Linked DNA regions of Homo sapiens: regions 2 and 3 are each linked to region 1. The links come from fine-mapping of genetic effects on gene expression. A gene starts in region 1. Each other region holds a variant in brackets. All regions are shown on one strand. Distances are from middle to middle. Region 1 holds the start of SPINT1 (serine peptidase inhibitor, Kunitz type 1). Region 2 has its middle 7.7 kb from the start of DLL4. Region 3 holds the start of DLL4 (delta like canonical Notch ligand 4).

The links.
Region 2: its variant is fine-mapped to the expression of SPINT1 in whole blood (TOPMed, PIP above 0.99).
Region 3: its variant is fine-mapped to the expression of SPINT1 in blood mononuclear cells (TOPMed, PIP 0.98).

The regions. Positions count from the first base shown.
Region 1 is chr15:40,839,603-40,849,836 of GRCh38, reverse strand. SPINT1 (serine peptidase inhibitor, Kunitz type 1) reads right to left here and starts at 5,789. Exons shown (of 11, transcript NM_003710.4): 1 at 5,651-5,789; 2 at 4,808-5,347. The coding sequence starts at 5,282. SPINT1-AS1 (SPINT1 antisense RNA 1) reads left to right here and starts at 5,313. Exons shown (of 2, transcript NR_146468.1): 1 at 5,313-5,658. RefSeq lists silencers at 5,108-5,347, 5,638-5,697, 5,778-6,007, 6,169-6,351 and an enhancer at 5,645-6,216.
Region 2 is chr15:40,916,568-40,926,801 of GRCh38, reverse strand. No RefSeq gene overlaps it. Among named protein-coding and RNA genes, the nearest start is that of DLL4, 7.7 kb to the left of the region's middle. RefSeq lists an enhancer at 771-1,616. The variant T/C (reference allele first, on the strand shown) is at 5,385.
Region 3 is chr15:40,929,223-40,939,456 of GRCh38, reverse strand. It overlaps DLL4 (delta like canonical Notch ligand 4), which reads right to left and starts at 10,117. Exons shown (of 11, transcript NM_019074.4): 1 at 9,723-10,117; 2 at 9,341-9,610; 3 at 8,775-8,832; 4 at 7,691-7,954; 5 at 7,226-7,286; 6 at 7,010-7,140; 7 at 4,740-4,909; 8 at 4,340-4,559; 9 at 2,527-3,229; 10 at 1,931-2,039; 11 at 384-1,428. The coding sequence starts at 9,788. The coding sequence ends at 1,423. RefSeq lists an enhancer at 440-1,256 and a silencer at 10,223-10,234. The variant G/A (reference allele first, on the strand shown) is at 4,341.

The sequences.
Region 1 (10,234 bases):
TGATGTACCTTCAAAACCAGCCTGCTACACCTACATTCTCACCCTCTTTTCAGATGAGAAAGTTGACACCAGAAAGATTAAATGGCTTGCTCAGAGTCATTCAGTTTCTAAAGGCAGAGCTGGGATTTGAACCAAGGTCTGTCAGACTCCACAGCAAATGCTCTCTCCAAAACGTAATTCTATAGGTTATCCACCCCCTCAGAGGTTGTGATTTTAATTGCTTTTATAATGTTGGGTTTTTAAATTTTGCTTTTCTAGTTTAGGTAATACATATATGACATAAAATTCAAAAGGTGGCTGGGTGTGGTGGCTCATACCTGTAATCCCAACACTTTGGGAAGCTGAGGCAGAAGGATGGCTTGAGCCAAGGAGTTTGAGACTAGCCTGGGCAACATAGTGAGACCTCGTATTTACAAAATAAAAAATTAGCTAGGTGTGATGGTGTGATGGCTACTTAGCTATTCATGAAGATGAGGTTGGGAGGATCGCTTGAGCCTGTGAGGTTGAGGCTGCAGCGAGCTGTGGTTACACCACTGAACTCCAGCCTGGGTGACAGAGTGAGACCCCATTTCTCTCTTTTTTTTTTTTCCTGAGACGGAGTGTTGCTCTGTTGCCCAGACTGGAGGGCAGTGGCGTGATCTTGGCTCACTGCAAGCTCCGCCTCCTGGGTTCACACCATTCTCCTGCCTCAGCCTCCCAAGTAGCTGGGACTACAGGTGCCCACCACCACACCCGGCTAATTTTTTGTATTTTTAGTAGAGACGGGGTTTCACCGTGTTAGCCAGGATGGTCTCAATCTCCCGACCTCGTGATCCGCCCGCCCCGGCCTCCCAAAGTTCTGGGATTACAGGCGTGACCCACCGCGCCCGGCCCGACCCCATTTCAAAAAAAAAAAAAACAGAAAAACCAAAACCAAAAGGTACAAAAGCCTAGTCAAAATTAAGTCACCTCTTCTCCTTAAGAAGGAACCTTCTCCATCAGGTTTATTACCCCAAAGGTATGTATGAGACAGAGAGAGAGAGAGAATATCAAGAGACAGTATTTGAATTCACAAGCATTTGAGTTCTTCATCTTGTTTTGCCCTTTATATATATTGGAAATCATTCCATAGTGACACATAAAGAGTTTCCTTTTGTTGTTGTTGTTGTATCATATTCATTGTATAAATGCACCACAATTTATAATTTATTTAAACAGTCCCTACCAGTTTCCTGATTTAGATTTTCTTTCTTTCTCTCCTAAGAACTAAACCATGCTACCTTAGGGTTTATTATTATTATGAAAACAGCATCACAGTATTCAATTATAGGATGTGTTGACAGACAATGCGATTGTTTCCAATTCTTCGTTATTATAAACAATACTACGGGGACTAACTGGCTGGTAAGTTGTTTTATCCGTGTGTAGGTACAGCTGCAAGATGAATTCCTACAAGTGGAATTGTGTCCAGGGCTGTGTGCATTTAGGTTTGATAGATATTGCCCAACTACCCTCCACAGAGGCTCTCTAGAGAGTTTTTTCAAGTGTTAGAGTGAATGCAAAGAAAGAAGAGAAGGTAAAGAGCTAAGAACAGCTGGTAGGAGGCCGAGTCTCAGGGATTCCTCTTTGATGAAGTAGAGAAAGCAGAGCCAATGGGGGACTCACAGAAGGTGGTTCTGGGGCTGAGAAGACCAGGATGCACAATGACAGCAAAAGGGATGGGAAGGGAGAGATTTCAGGAAGAAACATGTTGAATGTTTCAGAGGCCTACAAAAATAGTAAAAAGAGAACTGGGTTCCAGGGATTAGGGAAAATAAGACAGGGATGAGCAGGAACGAAAAGTGGCTGTCTGGAGGCAACCTCCCAGCCCAGGGGCTTGGCTGACAAACAGGAGAGTACCCTGAGAACACCTGCCAAGGGAGTAGCGAGCTGGGAGGAGCGCAGTCCTCCCTCCTTGCATTTTGTAGAAAGAAGACAGACTACTTAGCAGTCTGCCTAGCAGACAGACAGGCTAGCCCCACCAGGCCCCCAGAGTGGAAGTAGCATGCAGAGTGATGCATCAGACTTTGAGCTGAATCAGGGGCTGAATCCCACCCCAACACAACTCAGTCCTCTCCAAGCCCCAGCCCCCAGGACCAAGGAGCAGGTACCTTGCCTTACCACTCCCTTCCTCCCACCCGCAAGAGAGCAAAGGGCTAGAGTGGCAATAAAACCAGCCCCTCCCCCAGTTAGTTACCAGGTCTCAGGACCTCAGGGAAGTGCAGACTCCGCCTCCTAAGCCACTCCTTCATAGGACTGGGGAGGAGGAGAGGTGGGGGAAGAGAAGGGGAGAAGAGGAAGTGCAAGCTGCTCCGCCTCCAGCTGCAGGAATCTGTACTGGCCTGGCCTGGCCACAGGCAGAAGGAGGAACAAACAAACCCATTCTGGGGAGCATTTATCTATGCAATAGGAGAATCAAAGGTTTGGAAGCTCTCAGTGCCCGTGACCCACGTCACCCAACCCACCTCATCCACCCTAGCCCTTAATGGCTCTACCCTGTCATTACCCACCTCCAACCTCTCTAACTGGACCCAGGTGAGAATAAACCCCTTGACACACACACAGCTTTTTCCTCTTCCCAAAGCACTGCAGCACTCTAAGAATGGCCTAGAATGGCCTGGAGCTCATACTAAGTCCAAGCCCTACCTGCCTCCCTCAATGTCCCAGGAAATCCCCACTCCACCCTCTCTTGTGGCAAACAGGCAGGTCCTGGGGGTTTCCAGATGAGGATGGCTGGTCTCAAGACCATGGGGCCATAGTCCAGCTAAGCTCCCTGACCAGACTCCAGAATTTCACACTCTGGCTCTGGAGAGGGACTCCCATGGGGCCTCTGTGGAGCAGGAAGGGCATGAGCAACTCAGGTCAGTAAGAGTCATCACCACCTACACTTTCTGCTACTTCCTTGTGGAACAGGCTGCAGCCCTGGTTCAGTGGGACTTGGTGGCCCAGACTGGCCCTCAGATATGTCCCCCTCCCATCCACAGGAATCCCCATCTCGCCTCTCCTCAGAGACCCAGGAGAGCTACTGGAAGGATAGGGAGGAAAGAGGACCCTCCTTAGCCTGGCAGAGAGACTAGCCCAGGAAAAGTCTGCGGAGGAAAGCCCTTTCTCCACTTTCCAGAACGGAGACCACCCCCAGATGTGGCCCCAGCCCAGTTCTGGCCCCCAAACTCCCCAATCCCCGGTTCTGTTATCCACTGGGCTATTTTGGGTCAGAATGCTAGGTTTTTACCAGAGAGATGGTCTTGTGTGAAAAACAGCACAGGACTTTTTTTGGAGGTCTCCCCTGGGGTGAATCTCAGGCCTACCATTTATGGGCAGTGTTACCCTGGGCAAATTCTTTAACATGGGAGTCTTAGTTTCCTAATCTAAAAAGTGGGATGACTGCTAGTAGCACCCTTTTTGGAAGTTGTTGTGATGAGGCCTGAGTGAGAGGATGTGTGGCACAGCAATCAGTAAGCTGTAAAGTGCTCACAGAGGTTATGAGAGGTGACCTACCCCTGCCCTGGAGCCCCACCTGGCCAGAACAGCAGGTAGAGAGAAAGGGGGAACCAAGGCTCTGGACTGGCCCTGATCCCAGCAGACAGTTCAGTCCGGGGAAGAAAGAGGAGGAGCCCTGGCCTCCGCTTTGCCTTTATCTATGGAAGTAAACAAGGTTTGGCTACCAGATTCTAAGCAGGGAGAGCCCTGTCTGGCTCATGCGCATGCACACACACCTGCCTGGACAGCTGACATCCCTTCCCTACTAGGTATACATACCAACAGGCTGACTCACCCCACAACCCTCCTCATCCCCCACCCCAGAGCCTCTAGGCTTCTGTGCCTACAACATCACTTCTCTCCCTTTGGATCAACCGCAGACTGGGCTTGTTTTCTAGTCTCGGATCTGGCAGTCTTCCTGGACCACCAAAAGGCCAATGCATTCCTAGGGGGTAGAGAGATGCTAAGCAGTCCCAAGTCCAGCCAGTGGAGGAGACTATGGCCAGGCTCACCTGACAGGGCATCGGTGTGCCCAGACCAGTGCTTGGCCAAGGTGCCTTTCTAGTCACCAGACCATCCAGACAGCTCACTCCTTCAATCAGCCTATCAGTGCCAGAGGTCAGGAGTCCTGGGGACTTCCTCTCCCCTCCAGTACACACAGCCCAGAGCCAAAGGCCTCCCTGTGAGCACCAGCCCATCACCTCTGAACATCCTGAGTTCAGGAGCCAGAGCCTGGGCCCTGCCCTCCCTACTCATGTCCCCTTTCATTTGTTTACTGTTTGTACTGCCTACTACCGATGTGAAGGCGATCTGGCTGTGACATCTGTCACCCCATTGATCACCAGGCTTGATTCGGCTGTACTGCCTACTTCTAAGGAGGGCTTCAGGTAGAAATAATCCCAGCACTTTGGGAGGCCAAGGTGGGTGGATCACCTGAGTTCAGAAGTTCAAGACCAGCCTGGCCAACATAGTGAAACCCCGTCTGTACCAAAAAAAAAAAAAAAAAAAAAAAAAAAAAAATTAGCCGGGTCTGGTAGCGGGTGCCTGTAGTTCCAGCTACTCCGGAGGCTGAGACAGAAGAATCACTTGAACGTGGAAGACGGAGGTTGCAGTGAGCAACCAGAGATTGCGCCATTGCACTCCAGCCTGGGCGACAAGAGCGAGACTCCGTCGCAAAAAAAAAGAAAGAAAAAGAAAAAAAAAAGTGAACTCTCCTTAACTCCTCTCTGATGTTCGTCTCCCCTAGGACCCCATAACCAGTCCCTTTTTTGAGTCTCTCCAAACCCATCCATCTTGGCACCCTCCTCACCTCCAAAGCCCTGGGTCCGCAGCTGGCGGTAGGAGCGGTACACTTCCCTCGTGAGGTAGTTGATGAAGCCCTCCCTGGGCGCGAACTTGCACACGAAGTTCTGCTCGTAGAGGCAGTTGATGAGGAAGCAGGCGGCGATGGCGTCCTCCCCGCGGTCGGGCTGCAGCTCCACTAGCGCCAAGTTGCAGTTCTGGGTGGTGCAGCAGGCGCGCACGCAGTCCCAGCCCCGGCGCACGGTGGGGGACTCCAGGAAGGTAGCTCCGTTGCTGACCGAGGCGTTGGTGTCCAGCACGAAGCCAGGCACCCCGGCGGTAAAGCTGTTCAGGCAGTCGGCTCCCGCGGGCAGCCCAGGGGGCGCGGGCGGTGGCCCGGCCTGGGTGCCCTGGAGGCCGAGCGTGCACAGAAGCCACAAGGCGACGGCAGGGATGCCGGCCGGGGCGAGGCGGGCGCGGGCCATCGTCCTCGCAGGGGCCATCGCCTTCCTCCCCAGGGGGGTCACCTTCAGAGCGCGGGCCTCTGGGTTCCGAGGGTGCTGGTGACCTGAGAAGAAGGGAGGGGACAGAGGAGGAGACACACCTGATCAGCCCGGGAGACTTTGGAGGAGGCGGGCCGGCCGGGAGGAAGTGGCGGGGAGGAGGGACCGGAGCACCCCAGGATCGAAGAGGGCGCACGGGCCCGGCCCTCCCACGCGCCCTCCAGGGACCCGGCAGCCAGACAGACGGACAGGCGGACCGCTAGGGAGCTCAAGTACCCGGACACACGCACGAGCGCAGAACAAAGGGCCGGACATGCTCCAGCCCGCTCCGCCTGCGCCTCGGCCTTGCGCGCGGGGGCCCGGGTTACCTGCGCAGGTGAGTTGGGTGGGGCCGGGTCCGCCGAGGTTCCGGTCCCAGCTTCCTGCGCGGCTCGGGTCGCGGCTTCCGACCCGGTGCTCGGAGAGCTGGGGCTCGGCCGCCTTCTCCCCCTGGTTTCTGGTGAAACTGAGTCAGCGCCGTCGGGGCGGGGCCGACATTCACCCTTGCGCTGCCGGCCCCGCCCACGCCCGGTGCGCTGCGGCCGCCTCTAGCGCGGAGCTCCAGGCCCGGCCCGCCCCGCGGCCCCGCAGCCCCGGTGCCTCCCCGGCAGCCAGCTCCCCGGAGGGGCTCTCGGGCTCCACCCAGTCCAGCCTCGCGAGGGAGCCCCGCGCCCGAAGCGCATACCCAGCCGGGAGGGGATGCGGCCGGGACGCGAGGGTCCGGCCTCTGGGGCGGCGGCCTCCAGTCTTCCTTTCCGGCCGGGGCCTGCTTTCCCAGCCCCAGACCTGAGGCCCGATGCAAATGATCTTTCCGGCCCTCAGGAAATCATTTCCATTTCGTGGCGGGAAGGTAACCCAAAAGTTGCGTGGCTGCACCTGTGATAACAGGGATCCGGGATGTCTGCCTCACTGTCAGCTCCGGGAAGCCCTCCCTGCTGTCAGGGTGAGAAACGGAGGCGATTCCCCGCGTCCAGGCTCCCCTGCGTGCTCCACGGGGCTTCCCTGTTGTTCGAGGCCCCTCCTCATCTTGTATGTACAGTTCGGTCCATTCCCTGCTATGGCTCATTGGACTGTTGCCCCCTTCCCTGGAGCCCAGGCTTCCTCTCTTTCACAAAGGGGACGCTGCTGGCTACTTTCTTCCAGGGAAATGTCATCCTTGGAAGCCTGGAGGTTCCAGTTCACCAAGTAGCTGAGTTAATGCCCTTCACGAAACAGTGGACTCCTTGAAGCCAAGCTCATTGCTCCTCCTGAGTAAAAAACTCTTAAGAGACCATTCTCTACGGCAAGGGTCTGAACAGGTGAAAGACAGATGAAGGCAGGGCTGGAGGAAGGAATCACATAGCATGCTCTCTTAAAATACAGATTCCAAACCTTTTCCTGATGGCTTAACAACCCCCAAACCAATGGGAACATTCTTCCCAGTTTCTCATCCAGAGCAGCTTTGCCTAGCAGATCCTGTGGCCAACCCTTGGATTTTGCTGAACTGCAACATCCTCCAGCTGCTCACATGATGCGTGTTGGGGTGGGAATCTGGGGCCTGTCTCCCCTTCTCTGGATGTTTAGGGTTTATCCACAGACCCTGGCACACTGGTGGATATACAACAATGGTGGTATGCTGGGAATGAAGAAAATGATTGTGCAGTCACTGGGAAGAAAGGGTTTTGTTGTGATTTGATTTCCCCTTATGGCTAACACATTCAAGAATCTTTATTTATTTATTTATTTATTTTTTTTTTTTTTTTTTTGAGACGGAGTCTTGCTCTGTCACCCAGGCTGGAGTGCAATGGCACGATCTCGGCTCACTGCAACCTCTGCCTTCCAGATTCAGGAAATTCTGCCTCAGCCTCCCAAGTAGCTGGGCTTACAGGTGGGCACCACCACGCCGAGCTAATTTTTGTATTTTTAGTAGAAACGAGGTTTCACCTTTTTGGCCAGGCTGGTCTTGAACTCCTGACCTCAGGTGATCCACCCACCTCGGCCTCCCAAAGTGCTAGGATTATAGGCGTGAGCCACTGTGCCTGACCTCAAGAATCTTAATACAGGAAAATATTACCTTATGGTAATATTACATCACCATAAATTTATCATTACATCCATTATACACACCATTATAAAAACCAACATGAATTCAGCACTGACAATGCCCAAACTCTGTTCCTAAGCACTGCCCACATATTACCCTATACTCAAAACAAACCTAGGGAGGTAGTATTTTTAGCCCCATTTTACAAATGAGCAAACAGGCTCAGACAGGTAAACTGACTTGTCAGGTCATTCAGCATTGAAGCGGCAGAGTAGGGATTGGAGCCCAGGCAGGCCAATTCCATGGCTTCAGTGCTTAAACCCTGGGCTTTATGGCCTTTGCAATTCTGACTTCATCTGGAAGTTCTGCCCTCACCTCAGATTCAACTTGCTTAAACCCATAACTCACTTTCAAGTGGTGAGCACCCACCATTTGTTGAGATGCCCACTGTGTTCCCTCCAGGCACTTGACATAGGATTGCTAATGCTCAGGACAACTCTAAAAATTGCTTCCACTTTGCAGAAAGGTTCACTGACTCCATCAAGGTCAGGTAGTGAACGAAGAGTGGTGACAGGTTGTAGAGAAGTTGAACTTGTGAGCTTCAGACTCAGACTACTGGATTTAGCTCTTGCATCTGCCACTTACTATTCGTGTGGCCTTGTGCAAGTTATTTGATCTCTCTGCCTTAGTCTCCTTGAATGGGAAGTGGGGCTTCATAAGGTTTTTTATGAGGATTAATTGAGTTAATGCAGACAAAGCATTTGACACAAAGAGTTCTCAATAAATGTTACTTGAAACGACAACAACAACAACAACAAAAACACATGGTGGTGAGGATGCAGAGAAAAGGGAACGCTTATACATTGTTGGTGGGAATGTAAATCAGTTCAGCCACTGTGGAAAGCAGCTTGGAGATTTCTCAAAAACTTAGAACTACCATTCAACTCAGCAATCCTATTACTGGGTATATACCCAAAGGAAAATATATTGTTTTTCCAAAAAGACACATGCACTTGTACGTTCATCACAGCACTATTCACAATAGCAAAGACATGGAATCAACCTAGATGCCCATCAATGATGGATTGCATAAAGATAATGTACTTCATACGTACCATGGAATACTATGCAGCCATAAAATTAACAAAATCATGTCCTTTCCAGCAATACGAATGCAGCTGGAGGCCATTATCCTAAGCAAATTAAGGCAGGAACAGAAAACCAAATACCACATATTCTCACTTATAAATGGGAGCTAAGCATTGAGTACACATGGACATAATGATGGAACAATAGACACTGAGGACTACCAGAAGAGAGAAGGAGGGAGGGGAGCGTGGGGAGCGTGGGCTGAAAAACAACCTTTTAGGTAATATGCTCACTACCTGGGTGACAGGCTCATCTGTACCCCAAACCCTATACCCATGTAACAAACCTGCATGTGTACCCACTGAATCTAAAATAAAAGTTGAGGCCAGGTGCAATGGCTCATGTCTGTAATCCAAGCACTATGGGAGGCTGAGGCAGGAGGATTGCTTGAGCCCAGGAGTTCAAGACCAGCCTGGGCAACATGGCAAGACCCCGTCTCTATAAAAAAAAATACAAAAAATTAGCCAGGCATAGTGGCGCATGCCTGTAGTACCAGCTACTCAGGAGGTTGAGGTGGGGGGATTGCTTGAGCCAGGGAGGTCAAGGTGGCAGTGAGCTATGATCATGCCACTGCACTCCAGCATGGGTGAAAGAACTAGACCCTGTCTCAAAAATAAGTAAACAAAATAAAAGTCGAAATGATTCTTTTAAAAAAGTGACAGAGCCAGGATTGTATCTGAAGTCTTTTTGACATTAAAAGCCATACTTTCCATACTACCTTATGCTGCTTCTTACATACTAATAAGAAAAACTACATGTGAAGAGAAGAAAGACTATAAGGTATGCCATCAAAGTAGGGAAAGTGATGGTATTTGAATGGTGAGACTGTAGGATAACATTTCTTCTTTCTAGTTTTAAAAATATTTTCCAAGATCCCTTCAGTGAACATGGGATGCTTCCATAATGAAGAGAGAGACACACCGTGATGACCTCCACATACCATATTTGATGACAGTCTTCCTTGGTAATCACTCACATCCATCTCTTGTCTGTTCCCACTGCTGCCCTTAATCTAGGCTCTGTGCCAGCTTCCTGATGGAACTCCAGGCCACCCTGCACACTGCCATGTGGTTCCCTCCTCCAGCCCTGCCTTCATCTGTCCCTCACCTGTTCAGACCCTCAGTCATCCCCAAGAACTTCTCTGGCAGAGTGTACAGAGCCAACTGTTCCCTGGACCGACTCATGAAGTTCAGTATTTGCTTAGGCAGAGAGTGTCAGAGCTGTCAGAGGAGAGTCAGCTAAAACCCTTCCCCTGGCTGGGCACCGTGGCTTACGCTTGTAGTCCCAACACTTTGGGAGGCCAAGGCAAGAGGATTGCTTGAGGTCAGGAGTTCGAGACCAGCCTGGGCAACATAGTGTCTGAAAAAATAAATTTTAAAAAACAACCCAGCCAGGCACGGTGGCTCACGCCTGTAATCCCAGCACTTTGAGAGGCCAAGGTGGGTGGATCACGAGGTCAAGAGATTGAGACCAGCTTGGTCAACATGGTGAAACCCCGTCTCTACTAAAAATACAAAAATTAGCTGGCTATGGTGGCAGGCGCCTGTAGTCCCAGCTACTCGGGAGGCTGAGTCAGGAGAATCGCTTGAATCCGGGAGGCGGAGATTGCAGTGAGCCGAGATCGCACCACTGCACTCCAGCCTGGCGACAGTGCGAGACTCCAGCTCAAAAAATAAAATAAAATAAAATAAAAAATAAAAAAACTCTTCCCCTTACATACAGCAAACTGAGGCCCAGAGAT
Region 2 (10,234 bases), 77 kb before region 1:
GCCCCCGCCCCTGACGCAGACCCTCCACAACAGCATGGAAAGGGTGCACAGATAGACCCAGAGTCCGAAAGACCACTGACCCTCCGCAGGCCCAGGGTTCCTCAATTCGACCCGCACCCTCAACACTCCCCAACGTCGGAAGCGGGCGCAGGGTCGAGGCCTGGCTTCATGAAAGGCCCACCGCCTCTGCCCCTAGAGGCCTTCTGCTTCTGCTGTCCCCCTACGCTTGGCCATTGCGCATAGTCCTCCAGCCATAAGAACCGGCACTGAGGACCGGGAAGCGCTAAGGTCGCCTTCCAGCGGTGTCCCCAAGCTGACCCCAGGTTATTGGGGCGCAACAGGAGCCTCGTAGAGCCTCGGGACTCCTCCCCCGCAGCGTAGCCTCTGTGCCCTCCCCACGGCCGCAGGCGCAGCTCCGAGACCTTCAGCGCGGTTTTGCCTCTCCTCTCCCCAACCCCCTCTCAGGGGACGGCGCTCTTCGCGGGGCACACTGCACCCGGGTAGGAGCGCGGTGGGGGCCGGGCCACCGTGCCTGCTGGGCAGACCAGGGGCGGGGAAGCAGGCCTGGCTTGGGCGGGGCGCTTAAGCCTTGAGGGGCGCCGCTGCGGTCGCTGCGGAGAAGGGGCCACGTGCAGGGAGCGGCGGCCGGGGAGCTGCACAGAAGGCGTGGAGATTTGCAAACTGTTGCTGCCACATGGCTGCTCCATTCGATCCATTCACATTGAAATGAGGCCGGCGCGTGCCTCATCTGCCGCAGGGCGCTGCCACGCGTCAGCCCGGCCCGCCGCGTGCCAACTGGGGCAGTGGGACTGGCAGAGCCTGGCAGCCGTGGGGGCGCAGCCCGGGGCCTGAGGCCAGGAGGGTGTTGGGGGAGGGAGTCGAGCTACCCTAGCCATTCAGGCGCCGCAGTTTCAAGGACCTTGGCCCTACAATTGGGAGTGAGCTGGCGAGAAAGGCCCAGGACCGACGGGTTTCAGAGGGGGGCCGGGATCGATGCCGCCGCTCCCCGCAGATGCGCCCCGGCAGGGCTACTCTCCATCTGCCGCTGCTCGCACCTGCCGGTCAATAAATCGATTTTACAATTTAATGCAGCAGCTTCCCGCCCGCCTGGGACAGATGCCGCAGCAGAACCACCTCCGCCCTCGCCCCTCCCCTCGAGGGGCGCCAGCGGTTAGGGACGGGATTCCCGCTCAGCAGGCGGTGCCCCGCGTGGCCTCCTTCACCTCTCTCTGGAGCCCCCACAAGGAACCGCCTGCTGAGGGTTTTTCCCGCGGGACAGAGTGGGTTCCCCATAGAACAGGCCTGAGACTGGAGAGAGGAGTGAGGAAGGTGATGACTTGGTGGTGGCCTTGAGAACTCATCTGGGGGCTTCAAGGGAGGAACAGGATGCAGTGACTGATGATAAGAAGGGCCCCGGTGAGAAGGAAGGGGTAGGGCATGGGCGCTGAGGGACACCGAACTCTGAAGAATCTTGGTCAGGGGGACTGAGCAGAGATGGGGAGGAGGCAGGAGGAACGAGTCTCTCCCCACCCTCCAGGTGAGTCTGGTGAATAAGCCTGACATGGACCTGCTTCTTGGCACTTCCTAACCATGTGGTCTTGGGCTTGTAACCTAACTCTAGCTCTACACTCAGTTTTCTCATCTGTGCAATGGGATAATAATAATAGGGATGGCCGGTGTGGTGGCTCATGCCTATAAGCCCAGCATTTTGGGAGGCTGAGGAGGGCAGATCACTTGAGGTCAGGAGTTCGAGACCAGCCTGGCCAACATGGTGAAACCCTGTCTCTACCAAAAAAAAATACAAAAAGTAGCCAGGCATGGTGGTGTTTGCCTGTAATCCCAGCTACTCAAGAGGCTGAGGGAGGAGAATTGCTTGAAGCTGGGAGGCGGAGTTTGCAGTGGGCAGAGATCATGCCACTGCACTCCAGCCTGGGCGACTGAATGAGACTCTGTCTCTAATAATAATAATAATAATAATAATAATAATAATAATAATAATAACCTTGGAGCCTTGGAGAGTGGCTGAGGGACTGTATCAGATTATGCATTCATGGGACCCAATAAACAGTCATTTCCTTTCCCCCAGGTGACATCCAGACAGTCAGGGGCAGACTTAGAGTGGAGGGGAGCTCCCTGACTGCAAATGAGTTCCAGAAGGAAATGAAGGAAAAAGGAGAACCGCAGACAAATGCTCATAAGGGATGAGGCATGAGGAGCAGAGGGTGGGGAAAAAAGAGAGGAAAGCTAGGTGGGGCTCGGAAGGGATCCGGACCCTGTGGAAAAAGCCAACTGTTGGAGGTCCTGTTTGTGGCAAGAGGGTGTGACAAAGTTCTTGACTGGAGGGAGAAGACTGGAGCTTTGAGAATGGGTTTGGGGAAGATATGAAGGTTTGGAGGAACTAACTGCTCACAGTCTTGGCCTTCGGAAACCAAGACGGCACTCCTGCCAGGGCCAAGTGTAGGTTTCAAATTGTAACCCCTCCTCCTTCATGGTGGCAGTTCAGAGCTGAGACCTGTGGCAGGAAAGAGGGGCATCTTCTGCCCTGGTCCTTGAAGCTCCTGGCAGATCAGCCCTCTCTGTGTCACCAAGACAGCACACTGACCGGGCTGGACCATCCACTGGCTGATGGCTCATGACTGATGACCCAAATGTGCCAAGGAAGGGATGTCCAAGTGGTTGGGACCCTTGGCAGGAGACAGAGTCCCTGCTCTTGCTTCTCACAAGACCAGGAGGGCCTCCCCTCTCCTCCTCCCATGTTCCCCAGGAGCCCGAGGGCCTAGGCTAGTTGCAGACTGTCTCCCTTGCCTTCTCAGAAGCCCCAGTGCAGGAGATGCCTGGGACTGCGGTAACTGGTATGGACTGGGCCCTCTTCTTCTGGAGGAGAACAGCTTGGGTCTGCGGAGACCATGGGCCCAAGAGAAGAGAAGCTGAGGGTTCGCCACATGAGAAGCATCTTCTAACCATGACTCATGGCCGGCAGACATTCTCTCCAGGCCTTCTGGGTGCTGGTCAGCAGGAGAGAAAGAAGAGGGGGCAGAGTGAAGACCTGCCAGCTGGAGAAGCCTAGATAGGCCTGGCTGCAAGGGCTAGAGTTACGGTGACCCGGCAGCTGCCCCAGCTTCATTTGCCAAACCCAGGGAATGCCTGGAAAGCTAGGGCCAGGAGCCACGCAGTGGGTATTTCCAGCCACGGAGCAGGCCAGGGTTTAGGGCAGCCTCCGCAGCAACTTTCCCAGAGCCCCCGGCTTCCCCTTCCCTAGCTCCTTCCTGTCCCTACCCTAGCCAGCAAGCAGGGAGGCTCAGGGGAAGGGAGGGAAGGCTCAGGGCAGCCTTGCATGAAGACCCCCGGGTGGGAGGCCTGGCCCGAGCCTGCCCTTGCCTCCCCACCTGGATCCTATAGGGCTCAGAGGCCTCTAAGAGGTCTTGTAGGGTCAGAGAATGGAGGGCACAGGGCGAAGCCTTGCTGGGAGTCACTGGGGCAAAAGAGAACTTGTGCTGAAGGACATGGTGGGGTGGGGGGCAGAGCCTGAGCTGAAAGCAGGGGTTCAGCCACCCTCTTGGACCTGCCTCCCTACCCTGAGGTTTTGCTTCCCCTGTAAAAGCTTCCTTACCTGCTCATCCTCCACCCTGGCCGTGCTCACCTCACTGTCCTCTCCTCTTGCCCCCTCTCAGGATACTGGTTGCCCATCCCTGAAACCTATTTCCTCTGTGACCTTTGCCAGCTGGGAAGCTCTCCCAGCCCCACCTTCCCCCTCAGCCTCACACCCCTCCTCTGGCTCTGGCCTTCCATTAGCATCCAGGCCCATGATTTCCCCAATCCCTTGGCGTCCCCAGGTCCTTGCGTGTCCTCTGCCTTCCCCCTACTGAGTGACAATTCATCTCCTGGAAGAAACCCTGACCTTTCCTCATTTCTCCACATAGCCTCTGATCTCTGATCCCAGCTGCCACCCAGGACTTGAAGCAAGCACGAGGCGGGGATGGGGCCACACCTCACTCTCTCCCGCTGGGGCAACCTGGGAGTGGGCTGTACTCAGATCGGCCCTGCTCCCCCGCAGACTCCCTGGAAAGAAGGGTCAATCCTGAACCAGGAAGTACTGTTTCAAATACTCTCAGACACAGAGGAAGAAACGGGGAGAGTCGGGGGACAGGTGCCAACTGTGAACAACGGCCTGAGCAGGCAGGCCACTGTTCCCTGGAGAAGGCTGGGGAGGAATCCCACTGCCATGGTCAAGTAGGTGCTGGGTCTTAAGCAGAGGATGATGACCGGCTGTCTCCTTCTCCCACCACAGTCAGAATGAGAGGAAACAGGCTTCAACTGTGGCAGGAAGGATTTAGGTTAGACGTATGGGAGAACTTCCTGTGACCGAGTGTCTATACAGTGGATCCCAGCTGTCAATCCAGGTTGAACTCTCCCCTGAACTGATGAGAATTGCACGTTGATGCTTGCTAATGAGTAACCTGCCTTGCCTGTGATTAGCAAAGAAACCCCAGGCCAGAGAATTCTCCTCGTGTCTAGACTTTCCCCAGGGAAGAAGTCCAGAGAGACCTGGAGGCACCAGGAGCTAGGCTCCCTGGGAGACCCAAGGAGTTTTCTGGACAATGTTTAGACCACTGTGAGCCAAACTCACTTTGTTTCTCCTGCCCCCACCCCTCTGGGTGCCACTCTCAGAAAATCAAGCCCAGTGGAGCTGTCCAGCCACACAAACTGCAGCAAAGGGGCAGGCTGGATTTAAGATCTGGGAGCTCATAGAGAATCTCCCAAGTGACAATGTAGTCAGGGTGTTTAGCACCAGGGGTTTCAGTAACAGCCTCCACCAACTCTGTATGTTTAGAAATAGACAGGCATCAGTCAGGCGCAGTGGCTCACGCCTGTAATCCCAGCACTTTGGGAGGCCGAGGCAGATGGATCACCTGAAGTCAGGACTTCAAGACCAGCCTGGCCAACATGGCGAAACCTCATCTCTACTAAAAACACAAAAATTAGCTGGGCGTGGTGGCAGGCGCCTGTAATCCCAGCTACTCGGGAGGCTGAGGCAGGACAATCGCTTGAACCCGGAAGGCAGAGGTTGCAGTGAGCCGAGATCAAGCCATTGCACTCTAACCTGGGTGACAAGAGCGAAACTCTGTCTCAATAACAATAAAAATAAAAATAAAAAAATAAATAGGCATCAACCAGGCATGGTGGCTCATACCTGTAATCCCAGCACTTTGGGAGGCCGAGGTGGGCAAATCATTGAGCCCAGGAGTTTGAAGACCAGCCTAGCCAACATGACAAAACCCCATGTCTACTAAAAATAATAGTTAAAAAAACTTAGCTGGGTATGGTGGTGGGCGCCTATAATCCCAGCTACTTGGGAGGCTGAGGCAGGAGAATCCCTTGAACCA[T/C]TGAGGCGGAGGTTTCAGCGAGCCGAGATCGTGTCATTTCATTCTAGCCTGGGCAACAGAGCAAGACTCTGTCTCAAAAAGAAAAAAAAAGAAATAGGCATCCACACTTGGGCCCACTTGCCCCAGTCTCATGAGTCCTGCTTGGGCAGCGTGAACACTGCTATTGTTGGAGCCATTGTGGCTGCTGAGATCCCTGTGCTTCCCAGTGCTTCTCCTGCTTCCCCTCCTCTCCTCCTGTGGCTTAACCCCCACCCCCTTACTATAGTCTTTCTCCAGGTGAGGAGGAAACTGGGGAGACCTGGGACAAGTCTATCAAAACCATCACCAAGAGAAGAGAAGGCATGCAAAAGGTGCATTCTATCTGGGGCATGGCCCTATGGGCCCCATGGTTAGTGTTCCCAGGACCCCTGTGTGTGTGTGATGTGCATGTGCAGAGTTTGGGTCCATCAGCCACTCAGTTGTGGATGAGGTCTACCATGTGCCTAGCACTGGGCTCAGGTTAGTAAGGCCACACAGGAACATAAAATTCAGCCCTTGTTGCTCACAGCAGCTGGAAATTAGATAGAAGCACATGAAAAGGAGTGTGATGACCTGTGGAACCAGGCTTCAGAGAGCAACTGGGGCCCCGAGGGTCACAGGAGGCTTTGTAGGGGAGGAGGGATGACACTGGGCCTGGAAAAAGAACAGAATTTAGATAAAGAGAAGGGGGTGGGGGCACGGGCGCGGTGGCTCACACCTGTAATCCTAGCACTTTGGGAGGCCAAGGCGGGCTCATTGCCTGAGCTCAGGAGACCAGCCTGGGCAACATGGTGAAACCCCGTCTTTACTAAAACTACAAAAATTAGCAAGGCGTGGTGGCGGGCGCCTATAATCCCAGCTACTTGGGAGGCTGAGGCATGAGAATTGCTTGAACCTGGGAGGCAGAGGTTACAGTGAGCCAAGATCGTGCCATTGCACTCCAGCCTGGGTGAGAAAGCGAGACTCCATCTCAAAAAAAAAAAAAAAAAAAAAAAAGGACAAGAGAATGAAGAGAGGCAAAGGATCTGGGTGCAAATGAACCAAGTATGGCTGGGGCAGAGACTTCACCTATGGAGGGTGGACATGAAGTTACATAGCTATGGCATGGAAACCCACCAGACAGATGAATTTGGATTTGATTGATAGGTACTAGGGAGCCTGTGGGTTCTTGAGCAGAGGAGAGTGCCGTCTGCATGCTTTCTGGCAGTGGTATGCAGGGTAGTCTGGAGCAGGGAGGTACAGAAAGAAGGCCAGAGGCAGCTAGGAACATTTCTATATCTGTGGCTGGTGACCAGGTGAGCACTTATTTCTGAGTCCTGTCCCTGAGTTGGCAGCTCCTATGCATAGATGGTGGGGCACCTGAGAATGCCAGAGGCCTGATGACTGGCTGAGATAGACTCCACATTTTCCCTGAAAGCAGCTTCTCTCTCCTCTCACCCTCTGCTTTCCAGATAGTCCCCTGCAAACATGAGACTGGCATCAGGGCTTCCCGGGCAACCATACTGAAAGTGGAGGCAGCTTCAGCCATGCTGCTGGGCTGGCCAGCCCTCTCCCCTGCCTCCTTGCTCTCCTGGCCAGCCCTCTCCCCTGCCTTCTTTCCCCTTAGAAGCCCGAGGCCCTTCCTGGCAGCCCAGACTTGCCTGGAAGAGGAGAAAGGTTGGATCGGGCCTGGAAAGCAAAAAGGGAGTCCAGAGGTACCTTGGGGGAATGACTTGGGGCCCTATGTCTAGAAGCTCAGGGTGAGGTGAGCTCTGAAGGGCACTTGGACCAACACCATATTCAATAACTAATGACTCGAATACCTCTGGGGACAGGACTCTCACCCCCTCTCCAGGCTGTCCCATGCTCTTTAGATGGTTCTGGTTATAGAAAGTGCAGCCTCTTGTGGATCTGAAAGTCCTGACACATGCTTGGCACTGGGCTGATGGTTTGAGAGGGCTTTGGTCTAGGCCTTGCGGAGGGAATTCCAGAATGGCACTGCAAGAGGGAGGGTCCACTAGCCCCTTGGGCCTGGGATGGCTCTGCTGGGTCCTGTGGACAGCCTGCTTGGTCCCCTAGGCTGGGCCACGAGAACCTTCCAGCTCAAGCTGGGGGTGGAGCAGCCAGGGTGAGGCCGCCAGGTCAGCCCTTCTCACCCTCACCAGGGAGACCAGACCCAGGTCAGACTCAGGTCTCCCAGGCTGAGATCATCACCCTCCAGCCTCCGTGGCAGCTCCCACCCCTAGCTGAGTTCACTGCTCTGGCCGGCTGGGGGACATTGTTGTCTCCTGGGCCCCTCCCTGGGCTCAATGAGCTGTTTGTTGGCAACGTCCGGCGAGGGTAAGGGGAGGGTGGGCACAAGGCGCCCGCACACAATGGGGATTCCGTCCATTCTGAGGTGGCTGCGGGAACCAGGCTGGCTTTGTCCCGTGGACCCTCATTCCCACCATTTAGCAGAGCCGGAACTTCAGGCGGAAGGCCCCGTATAAGAACAACAATGTCGTCACCCTGTCTGGGGGGGAGGGTGCTGCAGGCCAGGCATACTAGGGGCCCAGGGGACTCACAGCCTGAGGCAGCGCGAGGGGCACTTGGGATAGGTCCTGGGGCGGAGGCTGTGCCCCAAATAGGAGGCAGACACAGGCAGGCAGATGAGTGCCCTCCTGCCCGGCCAGTCCATTAAGGAAGTGGGCTCCTGGCATCCCCAGCCATGCTCAGCTCCTCTGCATGCACAGAAGAGCCCTAAGGTGCAGAGGGGACCGGCGCAGCCCATGAGCCTTGCTGGGTGGTGTGCAACAGCGAGGCTAGGTTGGGGGCAGCCTGACCCTCCTGCATCCAGCCTGGGCAAAGATCTCTGCCCAACACTGGGCCCGAGCCTGTTTCTGGGCCCCTAGGCTCGCCAGCCTGCCCCTCTGGAAGTGGTGCTGGCCGCTCAGACAACAAGTGTTTATTTTCCAGTGGGGAGGCAGGACATCACAGCGTTTCCCTCCTGCCTGGTGCTGCAGCGGTTCTCACAGTCTGGGCACTGGTGACATCACCAGCCTTTCCTCCTCAGCCCTGGCCTCCTTGCCTCCCCCTCCCCACCCCATGCCCTGGCCAGGCTATGCAGCCCTGAAGCTCCTGCTTCCGGCATGGGCACTTCTGAGCGGGTACTCATAGAGGGCGTGGGAGCAGCGAACTGGACCAGCCTCTCATCCGCTCACTGCCCCCGGCATTCAGGCCAAATCTGGGGATAGCCCCTCTGTGCTTACCTCCACCAGAGCAGTTGGTGTCCCACCCAGATCACACTCTTAGTTCCATGCTGGCCCTTTAAGGGTCTTGGGAAGCCAGAACAACAGGAAATCCAAACGGCCTCATTAGGCAGCTCGGAGCTCAGCACAGTAATTAGTGCCCTGAAAACAAAACAAGGAAAAGCAGGTGGTGGTGCCCCCCCTCAATCTATTTGCCCCCCCGACCCCGCCCCAGCGTGGCCTGTTAGTACCCACAGCTAGGCAGCTGGGAGTGGGCCCCCTCCCTCATAAGCCCCCTCACTCCAAGCTCCTGAAGCTATTGCCCACTGCCCAGGCCAAGGGTTAGAGCCTAAGCTCGTAAGGAGCGGCCGCAGCTTGAGAGAAGCCCCAGGGACGTGCACTGGGCTTCCCCGCTCCGCAGCCAGGTGGCTACTGGGCCACAGCATCCTCCACCTGTTTGGAAAATACTGTGATGGCGAAAGGGCTGTGTTGGGCTCCTCTAGGGGGAAAGGGGAGACCCCTGGGAATCCTAGGGCAAGAAGCCCCCCTCAAGAGGAGAAAAAAGCCTGCTCTGCGGTCCTGCTTCTCAGGCTTTGGTGAACCTCCAGGTGGGCAAGATCACTTGAGCAGAGGGGGTGGTAACCCACAGGACCTCTAGGCAGACCCTAGGGACTTGCAAGCCCCCTCAGCTAGTAACAGCGCGGCCAAGAACCAAAAGGGATCTTAGTGAGCTCTCCTCTATGGCCAGCTTGCAGGTCCAGGTTCATTCCATCCCCTCTCTCGTCCAACATGGCTTTTTTTTTAATATATATACAGGCTCTCATTCTGTCACCCATGCTAGAGTGCAGTGGCACAATCGTAGCTCACTGTAGCCTCCACCTCCCAGGCTTAGGTGATCTTCCCACCTCAGCCTCCCAGGTAGCTGGGACTACAGGTGCCCACCACCACACCCAGCTAATTTTTTGTATTTTTAGTAGAGATGGGGTTTTGCCATGTTGCTCAGGTTGGTCTCGAACTCCCAGGCTCACGCAATCTGCCTCCCTCGGCATTCCAAAGTGCTGGGATTACAGGTGTGAGCCACCGCGCCTGGGCTTCTCCAACATTTGATGCAATTGAAACTCATTCTGTCCCTGACCCCTAAGATGTCTCCCTCTATCTGTAATGCCAGGGAAGGGACATTCTATGCTCTACTTAAGTAACAAATATTCACTTAACATATTTCACTTAACAATATTCCCTCCGCCATGGCAGTGGGGAGTTCCTGGAGAGGTTGCGGGGAATATAAACGGTACTACCTTGTGGTAGCCCATTACTGTAAGCACTGCCCTTCCCTCTGCCTTGAAAAGGCCTTGGAGAGCAGGAACTATGACTTTCTCTCTCTGCATATCCCCCCACAGACCCAGTGCTTAGTAGGTGACTGGTACATGCTTGTAACCAATCAAAAATGAACCAGAAATCACCTCTCTGACTTCAAGGATTTTACCGTGTCAGCCCACAATTCAGCAAGCAACAGCGTCAGCACCCTGTCAGGGTCCCCCGTGCTTGGGGAAGGTCCCAGCTTCTGTGTTCAGAGCCCAGGCCTCCCTCTGCACCTCCCCAAGGGCCTTGTGCAGAGCAAGGGCTGAG
Region 3 (10,234 bases), 90 kb before region 1:
CTTTTGAATATGAGAAAAACAGGCAGAACTAGGGAGCCCCATAAGCTTTTTCAGGCTTGAAGAGAGGAAGGAAGAAGTGATTCAGGTCAGGAGGAACATGCCCCAGGAATGGTGAGGGCATAAAGAGGGAAGGGGGCACTGTACCAACTCAAAGTCAGCAGGCAAGGAAGGCTGGCTGAGGCTGGGGACTAGATGGGTGAGGCTCGGCTCCTCAACGAATGGAAGAAGACAAGGGCCTGGGGTACGACATGCCAAATCCAAGTGTCTGCACGGGTCCCAGGGGTTCCGGCGGGGCACATGGCAGCAGTAGAAGGGAGTTTAGAGTTTTTTGGGTGAGAGGGCAGGGGTACCATCACAAAGACAGGACCCAATAAGTAATAAACTCCTGTACACATCTGTTTCATATTATAAATACACATTATATACAAAATAATGTTATAAAATGTAGAAAGGTCAGTGCTTCTGATTCTTAAATTATTGAAATACTAGACTCCAAAATAAACTACAAAAAAAAAAAAAAAAACAAAATAAAAACTCATATTATTGATTTCTGAAGACCAGCTTTGAGGGTGGTCTGGGGCAGTAGTGGACCAGAGCCCAGGCTCGAGGTTGTGGAGATGGGCTTGAGGGAGGAAAGGGCCCAGGCGGCCGCAGCACCTGATTTCCCCCTCAGTGGAATTTCCAACACACTGCCCTGAGTGCCCCAGTTAGGCCTGGCACCCTTGGCTGGTGGGAGGGGCAGGCCCTCTGCCTGTCTGCTTACAGAAGCCCAGGGCCAGAGGGTGGTGGAAGCCGGGTAGACGGACATTCTTGCCCAAAGGGCCTAGACCAGAGAGCCAGGCCTGCATACAGTAGTTGGAGGCATGGGGCAGAAAGCACTCCCCTCCCTCGAGCACTCACCTCACCTCCAGGGCAAACCCCAGCAAGAGACGCACCCAGTGGTTTTCCAGCCCACAGGAGGCCCTGCCCTCATTGGCCCCCTCTCTCCTTTCTGATTTGGGCCCAACTGTCGCCGTGGAGCCTGGGCCAAAGGCACTTTTGGAAACACGGATGCCAGTGGAGGCCACAGCAGCTCCGGGCCCCATGGGGCTACTGCCACTCTCTCTGGAAAACAGGCCGGAGCCCCGGAAGGAGCCCCCTGAAGGCCACTACTGGCAGGGCAGTGCCCAGTGGCATCTCTCTTCTCTTCTGTTCCTCTGGTTGGTGCAGCTGCCAATCTGATGCCAGACAGACACCCAAAGGTGTGGAAGGGTATTGCATCTCTTGGCAAGTTCACAGTCTGTCCGGTTCCTGCCATTCCCTCCTCCTCCTGAGAGCAGCACGTTGCATATGAAAAACGTCCCATCCAGGATGCAATGTAAACAATGCAGAAGGAAGGTCCAGCCGCGGGGCTGAGCAGGGATGTCCAGGTAGGCTCCTGCCTTATACCTGGGAGCAAGCGGAAGGCAGGGAAACAGGTTACCCTGGGCATGCGCACTCCCTCCAGGCCCTCCCTGGGCCTCCCTGGGAGAAGGCGATGGGGCAGGCAGGGGCTAAGGGCAGGTGGGGCAGTCCTCCCCAGTCTTCGGCCCAACACACACACGGGCCTGGGAGCTTGCGCTCATGAGGTCAATGGAGGAAGCCAGTGGGAAGGGGCAGGAAGGGCACAAGGGGTGAGGGGCCCCCTCACCCATCAGAGGCTGGCCAGCAGTGCCGTGGCTGCCCAACCCAGCACCAATACAGCAGGAAAGGACCAGACCAGGCTTGCCGCCATGGTTCCTGTTTCACACCCTTAGTGGCAATGAGGCCAGCAGGGACCCAAGAGTCCACTGAACTTGGCCTGCCAAGGCAGGGTTCTGACCTACCCTTCAGGAATGGCCCATGGGTCAAGAGTGACCAGGCCACTTTCCCTCCCACAAAAGGCAGAAGGAAAGGCGAGCCCAGCACTCACCTCCGTGGCAATGACACATTCATTCCTCTCCTCTGATATCAAACACACAGACTGGTACATGGAGTCCCTGGGGGAGCATATCGCTGATATCCGACACTCTGGCTTTTCACTGAGGGAACACAAGACAGGCGTGTAAGGGAGGGACGGGGAGAGGCTTGGGGGGAGGGAGGACCCTGGAGAGCCAAAGGGCATCTGCAGGGTGGTTCTTGGGGAAGACACAGGGGCTGGACGTGCCCAGTGCTGGGCTGCTGCAGGGGGGCACTTAGGAAAAGGCCCCTAAGAGAGTCACAGGCCTCCCAACCTCACCAGAAGGGTCTGAGCCCTGCATAAAGCCAGTGCTGCCACTAGAGGCAAGCCACACTGTGGAAAGACGGAAGTCACAAGAGACACCCTAGGGACACTTGACATGTGTGAATGAACAAATGAATGAATGGGAGGGAAGGACAAAGGACCCCTGACAGAAATCCTACTGGAGGATCTTCCTGTCAGTAACAAAACCTCAGCTGCTTAACTGCTTCCCGCCTGGCCTAAGAGGAGCCTAGGCAGAACCATGTCGGGGCCGGTGGCCAGGCCCTGGGCTTCTGGGTGCCACTCACCTGTGTAACCGCAGTGGCGCCTTCTCTCCTAAGCTCTTGTCACTGTGGGGAAACTTTCCTGGCATGGTCCCCCGCCCCAGGGGCCCTGGGGCCAGATTATAGTCCAATGTGTGGTTTTGCTGTTTGCCACAGTTGGACTTGTCCAGGCCACAGTCCACTTCCAGCTCCTTCTTCTGGTTTGTGTTTTTAAGCTGGGCGGCAGGAATCAGGTTGTCCTTCTGGAAGTCCGACAAGTTGTTCATGGCTTCCCTGCTGCCGTCGTCCGGCCGTCGAAGCCGCAGCTGCCGCACAGCCACTGCCACCATGCCCAGCAGTACCAGCAGCACTGCCAGCCCCACACCCAGCGAGACGGCCACCCAGGGGAAGCTGGGCGGCAAGCCCACGGGGAACTCGCAGCGGCTGCCCACAAAGCCATAAGGGCAGTTGCACACAAAGGTGTCTGTGGAGAGGTCGGTGTAGCAGGTGGCCCTGTTGAAGCAGGGACTCGAGGCACAGGCATCGATGGATGTCCGCACCTCACAGCGTCGGCCAGAGAAGCCGGCAGGGCAGGTGCACATGAGCCCATTCTCCAGGTCATGGCAAGTGCCACCGTGGGCGCAAGGGTTACGGGCACAGTCGCTGACGTGGAGTTCACAGTAGGTGCCCGTGAATCCAGGACGGCAGCGGCACATGCGGCTTGGACCTCGGTTCAGGCACTGTCCCCCTGTGAGGACGCATGAGACACAAGTCAGTGATAGCCTGGGAGCTCCCTGGGGCAGGGGGTGGGAGCCCCATTCCAGGAACACGTTCGGGCCCTTCTACCTCCACCTGCAGAGCCCACTACAAAGAGAACTGCACAGAGTCAGGAGACCTGGAGTTTAGCATGACCTTGATTCTCTCGGCCTCAGTGGGCTCATGTATAAAAATGACTAGCATCTTACAGAACTTTAACGTAGAATCAGACAGATAGGCTTGAGTTGGGACCTCAGCTGTCACTCTGTGGCCTGAGATCTGGCACTTGCTGCTTAACCGTGTCTCTAAGCCTCAGTTTCCCCATTTGTTAGACTGGAGTAGAATGCTAGCCCCTTCATAGGATAGCCGGGAAGGTACATGAAGGCAAGAGCCCATGTTTGGTATATAGTTAATGCTCGGATAAGTACAATCATGACTGTTTTACTTCATCTTCACAACCACATGAAGGACAGAGGACAGGTATTATAGTTTCCCATTCAGTGATGAAGAAATGGCAGTGCCAGAGGCTTCAGTGAGAGAGCAGACTCCCTCTCAGCCCTTCCCACCCCTCTCCAGCTCCTGAGCGCTGCCTGCCTGCCTGCCTCACAGAGGGTCACCTGGGAGCCAGATAGACAAGGATTACCAACAGGCTTTGTGCCTCAAAAGGTGCAAACATTCAAGATGCCTCATGCTACCTCATGCTCTACCTGGGCACGGGGCAAGATGAGGCCTCCAGGAGCAGGGCTCTGACTGAATCACTGCCTCCTTTGAGGAGAAACATGAAGCCTCCAACATCCCTCTCTCCAGCTCAGGACTTCCTGGGGAGGGTCAGAGGCCACCCCAGCCAGGACGGGGTTCTGACATGGGAATAGGAATGGAAGCTATGCAGGGTGCATACCACCCCTGCTCCTAAGGCCTGCGTGCAACTAACCAGCTCCGCTTCCACAGCCCCCCAGCTGATCAAGCAAGCTCTTCGCCCTCCAGAGCAGATGGGGGGCCAGAGTGGCAGACAATGCCTCGCTCCTCTCCTGACCCTCCCTCACCAGAAGTCTCTCTCAGCCCCAGGGCCAGTCCACCAGGTTAGCAGGGCAGCAGCACGCACC[G/A]TTGGCACAGGGGTTGCTGGTGCACCTGTCCACTTTCTTCTCGCAGTTGGAGCCGGTGAAGTTGGGGGGACATTCACAAGCATAGTTGGCCCCCTGGTTGCGCTCCCGGCAGGAGCCCCCATTGAAGCAGGGGGAGTCGGCGCAGCTCAAGGTGCTGTGTTCACAATGCAGGCCATAGTAGCCCGGAGGACACAGGCAGTGGTAGCCATCCTCCTGGTCCTGGAGAGAGACCATAAAGGGGCCAAAGTCAGACCCTGGGGGGCAGGGATGTGTGACTGAAGGCTGGGCTCCACCTGCCCACAATGCCTGTCCATGGCTGTACATCCACTAACTGCCTAGGTTAGGGATGCCCAGACACCACCTGACACCTCTGTCTTCCTGCGCTGGTCTGGGCCTCACCTTACAGCTGCCTCCATTGCGACAGGGGTTGCTGTCACACTCGCTGAGCTCCAGCTCACAGTCCACACCAGTGTAGCCTGGGCGACAGGTGCAGGTGTAGCTTCGCTGCCCACTGTTGGAGCACGTTGCCCCATTCTTGCATGGGGAGTGGTGGGTGCAGTAGTTGAGATCTGCAGAAACAGGAACCAAGCAGCTGAGCAGGGCCAGGGAATGCACTCACCTCCAGGCTCCTTGCAGTCCATGTTTGCCCCCATGTTTGGCTCAAAGACACCTCAACTCAAAGTCTCCCAGGCCCAAACATCCTTCCTCCACCACCAATAAAATCTTTTTTCTTTCTCTTTCTTTCTTTCTTTCTCTCTCTTTCTCTTTCTTTCCTTCTTTTTTTTTTTTTTTTAACAGAGTCTCACTCTGTCGCCCAGGCTGGAGTGCAGTGATGTGATATAGGCTCACTACAACCTTCGCCTTCCGGGTTCAAGCGATTCTCATACCTCAACCTTCTAAGTAGCTGGGATTACAGGCATGCGCCACTGTGCCCGATTAATATTTGTATTTTTACAGGGGTTTCACCAGGATGGCCAGGATGGTCTCGAACTCCTGACTTCAAGTGATCCACCTACCTCGGCCTCCCAAAGTGCTGGGATTACAGGCCATCGCACCCAGCCTAAAATCATGTTTCTTTTTTTTTTTTTTTTTTTTTTTTTTGAGACGGAGTCTTGCTCTGTCACTCAGGCTGGAGTGCAGTGGCACGACCTCGGCTCACTGCAAGCTCTACTTCGCCATTCTCCTGCCTCAGCCTTCCCAGCAGCTGGGGCTACAGGTGCCTGCCACCACACCTGGCTAACTTTTGTATTTTTAATACAGACAGGGTTTCACTGTGTTAGCCAGGATGAAAATCATGTTTCTTAAAGCACCTTGAATCACATATGACCAGTGCAGTCAACCAAAAGTGAAACAACACAACTGGAACTGGAAGACGTCCTGCCAGGGAAACTCACAAACTGCCAACCCAAGTAGGATGAAGATAAGGAAGAAGAGCAGAGGGCAAGGCCACATGTCGGGGAGGAAGTCAGAAAAGGCTTCATGGAGGAGGGGCAGCTGAGATAAGCCTGGAAGGAGGGATAAAATTTCAACAGGTAGAAATGGTAGAGGAGAGATGAGAGCCACCATAGGCAGTAATCGGGCATTTTTTAAAGGAAGAGGTGTTACAAGGGTATTTTGAAATATAAGTATTTGTTTTTTTATTTGGGAAGGACAGGGAGGGAGAACCAGACAGAGTAAATATATGGCCTGCAAGTGCTGTGTTTGCATATGATGAGTATATGACTGTGTCACCTGGGAGCAAATATGGTGGAGAGGGAAGAGAATGAGCAGGAACCAGGTGTGTGAGTGTTGGGGTGGGGATGGTAGTAAAGGGACAGACACACACACACACACACACACACACACACAACACAGGGACTGAATCCCAAGCCCCTTGTTGACAGCAAGTCAGGGCCTAGGCAATTTCTTTCCACCCTGGCAAGCTCTCTGCCCACCCTACCCAGGCCTGCGCCGGTGTCTCTGGGCAGCAGGTGCACCCATTTGATCCTGAAAATGGGAGCTGCAGCTGGCTGCAGCTGGCTAGCAGGATGCAAGAAAAAAGGCTTCCTCCTCCCCCAAGGTTGGGGCTGAAAGGCCCCTGTATAGCCAGAGAGTGACTACCCCTAAACACCAGGTAGAGACCGCATGGGTTCAGGCAGGTGGTAACTAGGTAAGAGCAGGGGAGGCCGTTTGTGCCCACACCGAAAAGTCGGTTAGATGCCACTCCGCCCAGAGGCCCAGCTCACCCACAGCCTCAGGTGGCCGGTGGGCACACCCCACCGGACAGCTGTTTAGGGGAGAGCTGCTCAAACAGCCCTGGAAGGTAAGCAAACACTCAGGGGGTTAATAGGTAACTACGGGGTTGAAAGAGGAACTGAGCCTGCCATCCCTCTCTCTTTGGCTTTGCTAGGATTTATGAGTGCAACCTCCAGGCTGCCGACCTTGTCACCCCCCTGGGTTTTTCAGCCACCCTGGCTCCACCACCCCCTGCCGCCGCACCTGGAGAAGGACCCACCGCCTCATTCTGGGCCAGTTGTAAAGATCCTTAAAAGACCCAAGATCCTTGGAAGATCATGGGAAAGCCAAGTCTGCAGTCACCAAGTAAGAAGGATCCAGGTGACGAATCGGATTTCCACCCCCCAGCCCCATATCTCTTGCACCCTCTGCACCCTCTCTTCACCCTGACTCACCTTGGTCACAAAACAGGCCTCCCCAGCCCTCATCACAAGTACATTGCCAGGGAGTGCTGCAGGTGCCGTGGCGACAGCCATTGTGGGGGATGCATTCGTTACACAGCCGGCCCTGCCAGCCTGGGCGGCAGCTGGGGAACAAGAGAGAGGCAGAGTGAGGTGAGAGGCCTTGGCCAAGGGAGGGCTCCCACTCACCACTTCCTGTCCCCTACTCACAGGCACTCTGCTGGCTTGCTGCAGTAGCCATTCTGTTCATGACAGCCCGAAAGACAGATAGCTAAGGGAAGAACACAGAGCTGGGTGAGGCTGGGATACCAAGGACTCTTAAGCCCCATTCTCACCTGCTGGCCCTGGGGATCCCCTAGCTCTCCTGGGCCCTCTTCCTACTCCTGGCCTCCCAGAGGAGCCCCGAGTGTCTTAAAGTGAAATAATGGCACAGGGAAGGAGAAGCCAAACTGGATGGAATGTCATGATGGGGTTCTTGTGGGCTTTGGCATGATGGGAGGAGCACTGGGAAGAGACAGGAGGTCTGAGGTCAAGCCCACCCTCAGCATCCCTGAGGCCCAGCTAGTAGGAGGCCCAGACCCACTCTTCAAGGGAGGCAAGCTGTGACCAAGAAGCTCCACTGTGTTTCCTCAGGGGACCCTCCCCTTCCACACAGGTGGGAGCTTGACTGCTTACGCTGTTGGCAATATTCCCCAGTCCAACCGGGCAGGCAGGACAAGTTGCCATCTGGCTGGCACACATAGTGGCCGAAGTGGTCATTGCGCTTCTTGCACAGGCGGGAGCAGTTGTCTCCATAGTAGTTGTCACTGCAGATGACCCGGTAAGAGTAGCGCAGCCTTGTGAGGGTGCTGGTTTGCTCATCCAATAACCAGTTCTGACCCACAGCTAGGGAGCCCTGGATGGCGATCTTGCTGATGAGTGCATCTGGTGGCAAGGCCTCTGAGGGGGCAGAGGGTCGGGTCAGGGAAGGGTCGCCAGTCCCCAAGGGTGCCAGTGACGGCTGGCCAATGTCCTTCTTGGCTGTGATGATGGTGATCAGCCAACCAATCAGCCCAGTTATCCAGATGACCCCCGCCTGCCAGCAAGAACAGGCCAGAGGGACCCAAAGCCCCGCTACGTAGCTGCCCTACGTGTGTGCATGTGCAGGGGGCCTGATAGTATTCAAAAAGGGGACAATAGAAGGATGTTAAGATATCCCAGGGTCTTGGAGGCAGATAGGGAGGGGAAAGAGGAAAAGAGGTCAAAATGGAAAAAAGAGAAAAAGAAAGAAAAGCTCCCCAGGCTAGAGAGGACCCTGGGAGCAGGGGGTCCTTTGGTGCCCATTCAGGGGTTCTGCCTCCAGAGGTGGGTAATGGTTTTCTTTTTTCCTTTTCAAAGTGAGAATTGTTGTGCTGCTGAAATATCCTTTTCCTCTGTGTCAGAACAACATCCCAAAGCCATTATTCCCTTTCCAAAGGAGCGGAATTCGCGAAAGGTGTAAAATACAGGAAGGGGCCCGTCAGCGGCGCTGGCAGCTTCAGCCTTTCTCACCGCCGTACTCCCCGCGTTCCCACGCCAAAAATAACCCGCAGGAAACGCAATTGTGCTCTGAGTCCAGGCAGCGAGCGGAATCCGAGCGTCCAGCGCGGGGCGCAGCTCCAGGCCAAGCTAAGCGTCCTGCCTCCCACCCCCAAGCCCGCACTTCCCCCGCCTAGAACAGATTAACTCTTTCGGCGCTGCGCCGTGTCGCCCCCCTGTGGTGGCGGAGCGAGCTACTCACCTGGCCGCAGGTCGTCTCCTGGCGCGTGCCAAGCTTCGATGATGAGCGAGAAGGTACCCTGGGAAAGGGGGTGGGGGGACGGAGAGATGGCGAGATGAGCAAGCGGGGAGAGGTGGGGGTGCCTTGCGGCAGCCTGTTTAATTAATCTAATTGCAGGATTCAGTTACTGCGCCCGGGTCAACATAACGGGGCTGTGCACAGTGTAGCGCTTGAGCAGGGAAGGCGAGAGGAGAACCCCCGGTAGAGGGAGGGTTGAGAGACGGGAGAGTGTAAGGGAGAGCCACTGGAGGAGGGGGTGGTAGGGTACCGCCCCAGAGTGGTAGGTAATGAAAATCGTGTCCCAAGAGCTGGGGACGGGAGGACATAAACTGGGAAGACGGAGACTGGTGAGAGCCTTTTCTGGGATCAGTCTCAGGAGAGAGTCGGGAAGAGCCAGGAAAGAATGCATCCTGGGCTTTTTGGGGGTGGGGGTGTGTGTACAAGGAAATCTGGGGAGGGGGCTTTGGTCCCAGGGCGCCTCCTCTCTCGGCTTCTGCGACCTCCCAGTGCGCCCAGGCTGTGCTCACCGGCCAGGTGAAATTGAAGGGCAGTTGGAGAGGGTTGCGCCCCCCGCCGCTACTGTCGTCCCGGACAGCGAAGGAGTTGGTGCCCAATACCGGCGTGGAGACGGTCCCGAAGGTGCAGGGTCCGGGCGAGACGACCGCCTGGAAGTGCTTAAGGCAGACGCGGAAGAAAGTCCGGCAGCCGGGCTCGCAAGGCCGCCCACTGGCCAGTACGCCGCGCTCGTTGATGAACTCCTGCAGCTGCAGCTGGAAGACGCCGGAGCCGGCCGCGCGCTATTGCACAGGGACCGAGGGAAGGAGGGAGGGGACCGGTCAGCTCAGCTGGTGCCCGGGGCTGAGGCCCAGAGCGCGGCAGAGGGGACGGAGAGGGCGCGGGACGTGTTACCTGCTGCCAAAGTGCCACCAGCAGCAGTAGCGCCCAGCCAGAGGCGCTCCGGGACGCTGCCGCCATCCCCTCGGGCGTCGCTCTCTCCACCCGCGGGCCCTCAATCTGGCTCTGTTCGCGACGCCGCTTTCCCGCGCGTCCGCCAGCCGGCGGGGTCCCTGAAAAGAGGCGCTCCTCTCGGGACGCTGCTCCCCTTTGGCCTTCTCGCTGGCTCCGCTGCAGCTGCCGCTGTAGGTAATCCAGGTGACTACGGCTGGGCGGCGACCGCGCCGAGGACGCGTCTTCTGTCTAATCCTGGGGCTGCAAGCGGGCTAGTGCCGGTGTACGCTGCACCAAGGCGGCTGGGGCTGCGGCTCTTGGCCTCGTGTTCCCGGCCTGCGCGCAGCGCCGCTACTGAAACCTGCGCGCTGGGGGCCTTCCTTATATATATTGGCTCCTCTCCTCGCCGCCTGTCACTCAGACTCATGGTCATTCTCCCCTCCCCTCCCGGCCTCTAGCTGCTACAGTCCCAG